3 linked regions of the Homo sapiens genome follow. The protein of the gene in region 2 interacts with the protein of the main gene of each other region in a pairwise test. Each region holds a gene or a part of one and is shown on either strand. Other genes may lie near its edges.

What was found.
Region 1: the proteins of CEP95 (region 2) and HMG20A interact in binary tests that used the Homo sapiens proteins (3 or more experiments, as listed by UniProt).
Region 3: the proteins of CEP95 (region 2) and GOLGA6L9 interact in binary tests that used the Homo sapiens proteins (3 or more experiments, as listed by UniProt).

What each region holds. Positions count from the first base shown.
Region 1 is NC_000015.10:77,481,326-77,485,074, reverse strand, and holds part of HMG20A (high mobility group protein 20A), read right to left. Parts: exon of another isoform or gene 2,106-3,749; 3' UTR 1-2,105. UniProt on the Homo sapiens protein: Plays a role in neuronal differentiation as chromatin-associated protein. Acts as inhibitor of HMG20B. Overcomes the repressive effects of the neuronal silencer REST and induces the activation of neuronal-specific genes.
Region 2 is NC_000017.11:64,530,840-64,534,588, reverse strand, and holds part of CEP95 (centrosomal protein of 95 kDa), read right to left. Parts: intron 3,664-3,749; coding exon 3,571-3,663; coding exon of another isoform or gene 3,567-3,570; exon of another isoform or gene 2,700-3,566; coding exon 2,567-2,699; exon of another isoform or gene 1,751-2,566; coding exon 1,581-1,750; intron 1,473-1,580; coding exon 1,398-1,472; intron 5-1,397; coding exon 1-4.
Region 3 is NC_000015.10:82,432,797-82,436,545, reverse strand, and holds part of GOLGA6L9 (golgin subfamily A member 6-like protein 9), read right to left. Parts: exon of another isoform or gene 3,730-3,749; coding exon 3,649-3,729; intron 2,985-3,648; coding exon 2,897-2,984; intron 2,513-2,896; coding exon 1,944-2,512; intron 1,678-1,943; coding exon 1,617-1,677; intron 580-1,616; coding exon 477-579; intron 268-476; coding exon 135-267; 3' UTR 1-134.

The sequences.
Region 1 (3,749 bases), on a different chromosome or scaffold from region 2:
AATCTCATGCATTCCTGAATATGCAAATGTTTCAAGTCACTGTCAAGTGTCCCATCTAGAGTCAGAAGAATGATGATCCTGGACCATGTTATGGCCTTTTCTGGTCACAAAAGCAGTGCTAGCAATGCTGCACAAAACTGAACACAAATGAGAAACAGAAATATGAGGAGGAAGGAAGACAGGACACAAAGCATCTGGCAGAAGGAAAAAACAAAACTCCAGAATGGGCTCTGGATGTCCTTCTGCCATAGACAGTGAGTTCTAGCTTGGGCTTTGCAGACAAGGAGTCTAAGAGAAGTGGCAGAAATAGCAGATGATGGCAGGGAAATAGGAAAATACAGAAGAGCAAGAGAACTGGCTAGGTTTATAGCAATAGATAATAATGGGGTCTTATTCTAAAAAATTGCCAAGTGATGGTATGTGGGTTTCAGCGCATGGATATTTGATATATGTTCATATAAGACATTTTAAAAACAGATTTTGTTGCTGTTGTTTTCCTTTGGACTAATAAAGAAAACAGGCAAGGAGATGCTGAGAAGACAGGATGGTGTAGCAACATGACAGGTAGTTCTGCCCTATGCCCTGACTTATGGGCATACTATGAGAGGGGCCGCACTTCTATCCACCTGCCTGCAGTGGTGTGGGGCCCAGACAACGGGCTCTGCTTGCTCTGCCTTTGGTTCCAAAGATCTCAGCTGTAACCTTTAGCCTTGTGCTCTGCAGTGTCAAAACAAAAACAAAAACAAAAACAATGAACAACCAAAAAACCCTGAGGTAAGAATCAGAACCTCTCTTTCCTTTTGCTGTTAAAGGAACCAGAAACTGCTAGGCGTGATGCTTGAGCCCAAGAGTTGTAGGCTGTAGTGTGCTATGATAGCATCTGTGAATAGCCACCGCACTCCAGCCTGGGCAACACAGGAAGACCTCATCTGTAAACAAAACAAAACAAAACAAAACAAACAAAAATGAACCAGAAAGTCCTCTTTACTTATGCTGTTAAAGAAAAAATCACTAAGGAGGGGGAAGGAAGGGAAGCCTGTCTTCCTCACATGGATTCAGCAGTTAATGGCTACAGAAGGAAGACAAAGGACATGAGAATTCTTCCTTGCTTTTTTTGTGAGCTCAAGTGACTATTTTGAATGATATTTCCACCTATCTAGATCTATGAATCATTACTCCTAAAGAAGACAGGAATTCCCTCAGTTTTCACTTACAATAAACTTAGGGCTTTGTACTCTTTCCCTTTCTCCTCTGTTTACAAGTGACCTTTTCCTCAGCAAAAATGCTCCACAAGACATTGTCAACAGATGGGAACAGAAGAGCCTTGCTGGGGCTGGGACTCCATGTCTGTGCAGGAGCAATGCTTAGAAAACAGCAGGCAGTACCAGTGAGGAAGGAAAGAGCATTCTCCTTTAGGGCAGCAATCACAAAGCCACACTGAGGGCTGGCACCCACTGAGCACCGTGTGGGGTAGGAAACACAGCCTTGCTCCACAGGGCACTGTCAGCAAGAAGCTCCTTTCTTTGGAGTCACAGCAGGGCAATGATGGGAGAAGACTGGGCCTGTCCAATGCAAGAAACTCTCCTTCAGAACCTTGCTGAGCAACCAGTTAGTCCAGAGGTCAGAAAATGGAGATGTATAAATTGGTGGGGGCCAAGGAAAGCAAAAATAACCCCCAGAGGCATTTAAAAAAGTGACAGCTAGGTAAGAAAACTGGAGCTCCACTGATAAAAGGGTCTAAGCGAAATTACAATGAAAAGTCTTCCTTTCTGCAGCAGCAGATGTCAGCATCCGGGTCACCTAGTAAGCTGAAGATATGCAGATCCACTTTAACAGAAATGGAAATGGTAGGAACCTGAAGACCCGGGAGAGTGGCTGTACACCTTCAAAGCTTCACATAAGGACAATTCCATAGGAAGCTCATATACATGTTGCTGCTCCCTCATTTGGCTTCCTGGGGTGATGGCCTTTCACTCACTGATAATTCTTTCACAAGCAAAGGGATCTGCACTCTTTCTCTGCCCCCACTCAGTTCAAATTTCCATGGATGGCTTCTCATTCCTCACAAGTAAAAACACTTATGGAACATCTTGGAGTTCTAAGACCTGTAGAATCAGGAAAACAAAACAAAACAAAAACAAAAACAAACAAGGAAAATAACACCAAGAAAGTAAGTATTGAATGGAAGGGGTTAGCGCTATGGATTTTAAAAATGCTTTGGTTTCATAAGCGTTAAAGTGAGTGCAGGGTGTATGTAAACTGAAGAACTCATAAAGCTGTAAGCAGGCAACCTCATTGAGATGTTTTACATAACATTTCAATGAGAAACATGGCCCTGTTCCAGTTCAGCAACAATGGGAGGTAGGAAAATCATCAGCTAAACACAGAAAAGCAACTATCAGGGACAAACCTGAGGAGGGAAAATGAGTACCCTACTTTAGTCTGAAGAATGTATGGTCAATCAAAACCAATTTTCTTCAAGTGTTAACTAAGGATATCTGCATGTATAGAGATGTATTATGTGCATATAATCAAGAACATTTCTCATATTAATAAAAATACAGTCACATAAGATTTTTTTTCCCTAAACTCAAACAGCCAAATATTATCATTGAAATCAGGCAACATATGCATTTTAATAGTTTATATAAGGTAGTCACCTTTCAACTTAAAATCACCCTCATGGCCTCCTCCTAGCTCCACTTGTCTCTAGGTACTACTCAGCTACAAGAAAGGTGACAGACAGGTAGGGTAATTCTTCCACTGTATATTTATCAAAATAATTTTAAAATGAGCTAAAATTCTATAACATTATAATTCCTGGATTACAATTTTTATCTGTTTACTTCCTATGTATCTTAATGCTCTATTTCAGGATTTTTTAGTGCTTTCCCCTTCCCCCATCCACCTCTTCCTTAGAGCAATGTTTTAGAAACCCAGTGAATGAGAGAGTTTAGATATCTGTGGTTCTAGTCTTGGATTCTGTACTCATCTACGCAGATATTTTCAAGCAAGATGTTTCTCCTCTCTGGGATTCAGTTTCTTCATATATAAAATGTTAGATTTCTAAAGGTCCCTAATATGCTCCTCTGAAACTTGTAGACCATTAGCTTCCCTTCACTCACTGGCTCCTGACAGTGGATGAAAACTTTGCCAAACTCTTGTCAGAGTAATTAATTGCATCATGAGTGCTGGGGACATCAGCCTCGCTGTCTGTACATATTTGTATAATGAGGCCAAACCAGTATTAATCACAGTCTTTGTAATTGTTTCCTTTGACAGTTTTGGGGGTGTGGGGAACCATCTATTGTTAGTTATGTTTGCATGGCTAGACTGTAAGAATCTGTAGTAATATAACAGTTCACACTTTTAGCTATTTTTTCAGGGGCAAAATATTTGTAGGTTAAAATCAAGGATAATAGTAATATTCTAAGTTTTCAAAGACTCATCAGAAAACAAATAATATAGTTTATACTCTTGAGATGAAAAAAGCTTTAGGAGAGTCTTACTGGCAAAATGCTCAAAATGGAAAACCACTTTTGGGTCAATACTTAATTAGCTGCCCTGTATCTATGTGAAGAGACACGATGTTATCAATTAATGTTTTCTTTCACAATCTTCCACACTGTTTCTCCCAGCTCTCACTTTTCAAGCCTACAAGAGTGCTAATTGAAAACACTGTACGAAAATGGGAAGGATGATGAGCTCCTGAATATCCCAGGCCTAGATTTACAAGCTGTTCCCTTCAT
Region 2 (3,749 bases):
CTTGCTAAGAAAGGGAAAGGGGAGGGAAGAGAAGGGTAAGGACAAGAGGAATGCAGATTCCAGCGTTCTCATCTGCCTCACTCCCCATCACGATGTCTTCAGGCAGTATGTCACGTGTGGGGGGCCAGTGGCCCCAGAAGCCCTTCAGCCTTTGGCAGCTTTATCACCTCAATCTGAAGAGCAGCTCCAATAACACCCCACTGCAGCAGAGGGCAGCAGTGATCCTGGGCACTCCTGTGGAACTGAGGGCTCACTCCCCATGCCACCAGGAAGCTGCTAACAAGGCTGGCCCAGATGCCACCTCACAAGGAGTAGGAAAATGGCACACCCAGACTTTCAAGCAGAGCCTGAGCTGCCAGGAGCATTTAGGCAAAAACTAAGGAAATTAGACAGTATCTGACAAAGGAGTGAAAATAAAATGGGGTCATGTACATAAAGCCTCTTATGTAGGTGTTTCAGATACTAGTGTTTTTTCCCTCCACAGGAAAGTACCATCTGCAGTTCCTGAGATGTCTTCCTGGAACTGTTCAGTATTACAGTTCTCATGGCTTATCTCTACTCCACACTCAGGCAAAGATTTTTAAATCTCTCCCTTTGGCAGATTGTTTCTGACCTCCATCCTCTCCCTTCGTAATTCTCTAAGCACAATTCCTAGTCAAAATTATAACGGAGGCTGATAAATCCTGGAGCTCTCTACTTGGGACCTGAGAAGGATGGGAGAGGGCAAACAGCACTAAGTTCAGCTGCTTGGCACCTAGATGGGTCCATGGAGTCCACAGACAGAACTGGATTAAAATCTCAGCTGTGTCCCTTGCTTATCAGTGAGACCCAGGGCAAGTTACTTAGTATCTCAAAGCTTCAGGGTTTTCATTTCATAGAAAACATCTCTAATACATTACTATGAAGACTAACTGAAACTGTGTATATAAAGTACCTAGCTCTTCCTCCTGCCCATTTTGGGTTTGTGTGTTTTGTTGTTGTTGAGACAGGGTCTCACTCTGGCACCCAGGCTGGAGTGCAGTGGCAAGATCATAGCTCACTGCAGCCTCGCCCTCCCACGTTCAAGTGATCCTCCCACTTCAGCCTCCCAAGTAGCTGGGACCACAGGCAAATGCCACCATGCCAGGCTCATTTTTTCCACACCCATATATATATTTTTAATGACAGGGTCCCACTATGTTGCTGAGGCTGGTCTCAAGTGATCCTCTCACCTCAGCCTCCCAAAGTGCTGGGATTACAGGCATGGGCTATCAATTTTGGTTAAAGACCTAGGCAACACTTCCACATGCAGGTGTTAAGAGGTTAAGGGTCTGTGCAACTGTTGCCCAGCTAGCACAGATAAAGGGAATGAATATAACAAATTCAGAATTATAATACCCAACTTGCTCTTGACATACCAGTCTCTTGTTATGTTCATATTCTTTCTTGACAAGGGTAGTAAGGAGGTCATGCCTTCTTAGGGCTTCTTCTATCTTGAAGGGGGACATGAAGTTAAGTAGGTTAATAATGCTGTTCACTAAATTCTTAAGGATAAGCTCTTCTCATTTAAATTCCTATGCTTAAGACTGACAGTAACTTACTTCATCTTGGAGTTTCTTCTTTGATCGATTTTCTCTACATGCTTCTTTCTTAAGCTGTTCAACCTGTGCAATTTGCTGTTTCCACATTTTGCTTAGTGTTGGGCCAGAAACATAAAGAAACGGAAACTGCTCCAGCATAAGGGGCAGGAGACTGTGTTCACTTACTTTCACTGCAAGGTAAAATAAGATGTTCTTAATCTGAGACGTGGACAAGAACTGTCATCCAACATCCCTGGTAGATCAAAGCTTATGTAAGTGATGTGGTTTTGATCCTGAAAAGAACAATTCTAAATGTACTTATAATAATTTGCATTACTCCTCTGATTGGAGTAAGCCAACTACTGGTAAGGATAAAAATAAGCTCAATAGTTCTGGATTGATGCCATGCTGGTCCTGGGAAGTCCATCCTAATTGCTCAGCCGCTTCAGTGCCTGTGGGTAGATTCTCTACGTACGGTAAAACAAGACTCCTCAACCTTCCCGGTAGGCAAGTGCTTAGAAGAAAAAGTTTCTGGTCTAAAGGATAGAGTAGGAGGGCCAGCAGTCTTTGGGTGTAACAGGAAGCCTGGCATTTCTCATGACTTTGTTTCTTGTAACAAGACTCTACACTCATTGGCACTGTCAATATATAGGAGGTGGACAGGCCATCTGCTTGCCTTGGAGCATCCCTTTCATTCTACCAACCTCCCAGAAATAGACAAAAAGGCAGTCAAAGTGAGTAAGCACACGAGTGAGGCTAACGCTGGAGCAGCAGGTGGCAGTCCTGGCATTCCTTGGGTGCCAATATATAGGCCTCCCTGAAGTACTTCCTTATTGAAGAGTTTTAGCCCTCTACGGAAAACCAGCCACATGGCAGTGATTGGGAAAAAAAAAAAACTTTCTTCGGCTAACTGGTGGATGTTAGCTTTCAGTGCTGTGTCCTTGGAATGTTGCACATGCTTTCAAAGGTTGCCAGTTTTCCATAAAGTACAATTCTGTGGTTCTTACTTGGAACTGCTTTATTTGGCTTTGGGAGGCCACCTCTTAGACTCTGCGTTGTGGTTTTTCTAGAGTAAATCTTCCAGGGCTGACTACATTCTGGAGTTCCTTTACGAACAGCTTCTCCTCTGTATATTTTTTCCTTAGAAGCAGATATAAAACAGAATAAAAATAAAAGGTCTAACAGTTCTTTCATACATCATCTTAAATATTACATACTGACAAAAACAGCTAACGGTAGTTTTTTAGTTTTTTAGCTAACAGTAAGCCAAACCACCTTACTTCAAATTTGTAAAATCTGGTTAATATTCATTTACTCTAAGTTAAATGCACCTTTTGGCCTCTGGCATCCCTTGGAATTTGAAAAAGCACTGAATCTTTTTCAAGTTTCAGTCACCATAGTCCCACACCCTAAATACAACCACTATTAATCTTTTTTTTAACCATTAATGTTTCAATGTACTTCTCTTTTTCCATGTAGATTTAAAAAATTCTCAGGCAACTATGCAGTATGCTTAGTTGTAACCATACTGTACTTTATATCCTGTTTTGTTCATGAATATTTTAGCATAAGCATTTTCCCCATGATTTCACTTAGTTTCTGTAACCATTCTTTTGAAAGGCAATGAAAACTTCTGTTTTGGGTTTCTTACAACCAGGTCTATAGCCAACTAGGATGTTCTGTCTTCTCTTACTCTTCTTTAATTTTGTCAGCCTAGAGTAGTTTTTAAGCCCCTGGTGAACTGCTAAGTCAAATAAACCCTTAAAAACTGATGGGAAGTTTTAAGTAGCGGAAAAACACTACTTTTCTTTGGAACCATGTCTCGTCATATTTTAGCAACCTGAATGCCTTATTAATAAGCAAGTCCTGTATCATGACATGAAATCCTGCCTTTTCCTAAAGAGCTCATGATTAAGGCCCTGTTGGCCCCTTCTTCTTTTAAAAAGATCATCTTTGTACTTCCCACTCATCTGATCAAATGGCATTTATTACAGTGGAGACTTTTACCCACTGTTTCCTCCTCCTTCTCATGTATTCTTAGAGGTCCAATATTCTCTTGAACTTTATGTCTTCTTAGTTCCCTTTCAAATGCTTCAGTAAACGCCTAAAGGGGAAAAGGTCATATATTACAGTTATTAAAAACATACACAACGGGCAGCACCATGGCTTAGCTGGTTAAAGCACCTGTCT
Region 3 (3,749 bases), on a different chromosome or scaffold from region 2:
ACACAAATAAATTTAAACTATAAATTAGAAACACAAACATAAGTGGCTCTAACATTCAAATGAAGTAAATGAATTGTGTAGGATATTAACCCCTTAAATGTTTTGTTTTTTTTTTTCAATTTCTTGACCCGCTCTTAGATGATGGTGATGTTTAGCTCCCTGTTCTCGGCAGCCCGAAAAGAATGGCATGCAGCCTCTCCTGCTCCTCCTGCCGCCTCTCCTGTACCAACAGCTTCTCCACTCAAGCCTGGGTGCTCCTGGGGAGTCCTGCATTAGAGGAAGCAGCTGCTGGATCTGCTGTGCAGTGGGGTTGTCATGGGGGAGAACCCTCCCTGTCCTCTCCCGGTGCAGCCTCCATGCTATCAGTGAGGCTCAGCTCACTAAGATCTTCAGAGAGAGGGAGGGGGTGGGAATCTGGGCACAGTGCGAGCCTCCCCTGCTCCTGCCTGCCCACCCCGCCTGAGGGCTCTACTCACCACCCTGCTTGTCCGCACATCCAAGCTCCTTGTGGGACTGGGGCTCCAGCTACTGGTCTGGCTGCTGCTGCAGACTCGGAGCCTCTTGGCTCTTCAGCTCCACCTGCCGGAAGACCCTGGGCATGAGGACATGTGGTGGCTGGCTTCCAGATTCCTGGCCCATTAATAGGGTAGCGAGGGCACTGTGGGGCTCTGTGGCCTGCCCAGGCCCCTGGCCCCTTGCTCCAGGCCTAAGAGACTGTCTCCCTTGCTTAGAACCCCATGCCTCCTTCCCTAGCATCAAATCTCACGTCCTTTTTCCCAGCATGTAAACTGTAGGCCACAGACTGGTGGAAAAGCAGGCGGAGCCAACCACCATCTGCTAAGTGTGCTACATGCCTAATGTTTCCACGTATTACCTCATTTAATCCTCAGCACCTCTGCAAGGAAAAGGCTAACTTCCTTTTGAAGTTAAAGAAACAGAGACTTAGAGATGCAAAGTAGTTGAATTATGACCAGTGGAACCGAGGCCGGAATCCAGTTTGAATCTAAGGAGGCTTTTTTGTTTTTCTGTTTTGTTTTGTTTTGAGAGAGTGTCACTCTGTGTCCCAGGCTGCAGTGCAGTGGTGCAATCTCAGCTCACTGCAACCTTCATCTCCCGGGCTCAAGTGATTCTCGTGTCTCAGCCTCCTGAGTAGCTGGGATTACAGGCATGCACCACCAGGCCTGGCTAATTATTATTATTATTTTTAATTTTAGTAGAGATGAGCTTTCACCATGTTGGCCATGTTGGTCTCAAACTCCTGACCTCAAGTGATTGTCCTGCCTCAGCCTCCCAAAGTGCTGGGATTGCAGGCATGAGCCACCACACCCGACATAAGGAGCCTCTTATACCACTGTCTCTTCCTCTGTGATTGGGGGGCTCCATGCCTCTAGCTGGGATGATGATGTCCAGACCTGGGAGGACCCCAGGGCTACCCACCTCTAAAAGTCAGAGGGCAGGAAGCAAGAAACAGTCATAGGACTGCCCCGGAGGGTGCTGGGGTCACCTGTCCCCAGGCTGCAGCTGCCTGTGGCCTGGCACCTCCCCTCCCCAGAGGCTGGTGCCCGCCTCCCACATCTTCTTGGATGGGTCGGAGGTTACAGTCTCTTTCAGCTCACCCGACTTCTCCAGCTCCTTTACTTGCTGCTCCAACTGCAGTGTGCTCTTGTTCTCGTTGTTCTGGACAGAAAGAAGCAATCAGTGGCCACCCACTAAAACTGGAGACCCCAGAACTTAGTGTCTGCCTCCCATGGCACCGGGAAGGGTGGAGGCAGGTTAGAAAAATATCCCCTCTCTCCCACAGCCATCAGAGCAGGGCTCTGGCTCACAGATGCCTTTAGAAGTACCATTTCATGTGAAGGCTACAATGCCCCATTTTACAGGTGGGGAAACAAAGGCCTTGAGGGCTAGGGAAGAGGGCAGCCTCCCCAGGTGGGGCAACGCACCAGCTCCTCGAAGCCGCTGCGTGGCTCGGCCCGCTGCTCGTACAGGGCTTCCCACCCCAGCTCCAGCATCCTCTCCAGCTCCCGCAGCCTCTCCAGCTCCCGCAGAGTCTCCTGCTGCCACAGCCTCTCATCCTGTTGCCGAAGCCTCTCCTGCTCCAGGAGCTCCTCCACCTCGTCCAGCAGCCTCTCCCTCTCCAGCAGCCTCTCCTGCTCCTCCTGCCGCCTCTCCTGTTCTAACAGCTTCTCCACCTCTTCCAGCAGCCTCTCCTGCCCTGGCAGCTTCTCCTGTTCACACAGCCTCTCCTCCTGTTCACGTAGCCTCTCCTCCTGTTCACACAGCCTCTCCTCCTGTTCACACAGCCTCTCCTCCTGTTCACGTAGCCTCTCCTCCTGTTCACGTAGCCTCTCCTCCTGTCTCCTGTTCAGGAGACTCAACATCTGATTGTTTTCCACCTCAGCCTGGAGCTGTCTTCCCACACTCTCTAGCTCCTTCCTTAGGTGGTTGGTCTCATCTTGTAGCTGCTCCATCTTAGATGGCCCTGCTGGGGGCTGTGGGGCCAGGGGTTCAGCTGAGAAAGCAAGCAGAGAATAAGGGCCTCTGGATTCTCAAAAAAAAAAAAAAAAAATCCTCCCTTTGGTGCACAGCTCCTCCTCTCAGGCTTCCCAAACTTGGCCTCACTGCTAATGACTCCTCACACCCGGATGGTAGACAATCTTCCAAGTCACTTTCAGATAGAGAGCACTGTGGGTGGCTGACAATGGGCACTCCTCCCTCTTTACTGATGGGGACACTGAGGCTCATGGAGATGACAAGACTTGTCCTCCCCTGGCACAGACCTCTTTCCCTCTGCCTCAAAGCCCTTCCATCCACCCACCTCCCTGGGGCATTCTAAGTCACCCCCACAGCCCTCTAATGCCAGTCCAGCTGCCAGGTCATGCCAGCCCCATCTTACCCGTCTGGTTTTTGAGTTTGAACAAGCTCCTCCCAAGCTTCTGTACCAGATGTATCTCATGCTTCTTCTCCTCCTTAGATGTGCGAACCTGCCCAAAGCAAAGGGGGAAAAGGGTACTGGAGGGAGGGGCTGGTGAACGTCCAGAGACAGAGTTTGAGAAAGGCCCACCCCCCTTCTGCCAGTTTGTGATTTAGAAACGTGCATTCATTCAACAAACATTTACTGAGCATGTACAGGCCAGGTACAGTTCTTCATAGCAGAGATATAAAACAGCAAAGGACAGACAGGAGCCCTTCGCCCTGAGCTTTCCATTCTAGGGGCCTTTAAATCTCTGACTTTCAGAGCTAACCGAGACCTTTGATACTCTCTACCTCCTCCAGAAACACGAGCATAAAGAGGAGAGATGGCTTGTCCAGACTCAAAAAGCAAATTAGGGACTGAGGCAGGGCAGGAATATGGACCTCTGACAACCAGTCAGGCTAGTGCTTCCCAGAGAGGTGACAACCCCAGGGCATGTGTGGCAAGGACTAGAGCAGGGGTGTCTGGAGAAGAGAGAGTCAGCAAAGAGGGCAGTGCAGAAGAGCCATGCTGCATGTTCTGTGCTCTGGGGTCCCTCCAGGTGAGACCTGGGTGCCCAGCTCCCCATTTGCCCTTGGCATCAGGGGCCCCTAGCCCCTTTCTTCAGGGCCCCAAGAGGAAACTGGAGTCCAGGATTGACCAGCTGTAATCAGGGGACCCCACTGGACTCTTACCAGTGAATTGATGTTTTCAGTGAGTTGACTGATTATTGCGGAGCTTGAATCCAGGGCTACTGCTAGTTCTTGGTACTGGCTCTGAGGTGCATGCAGAGAGA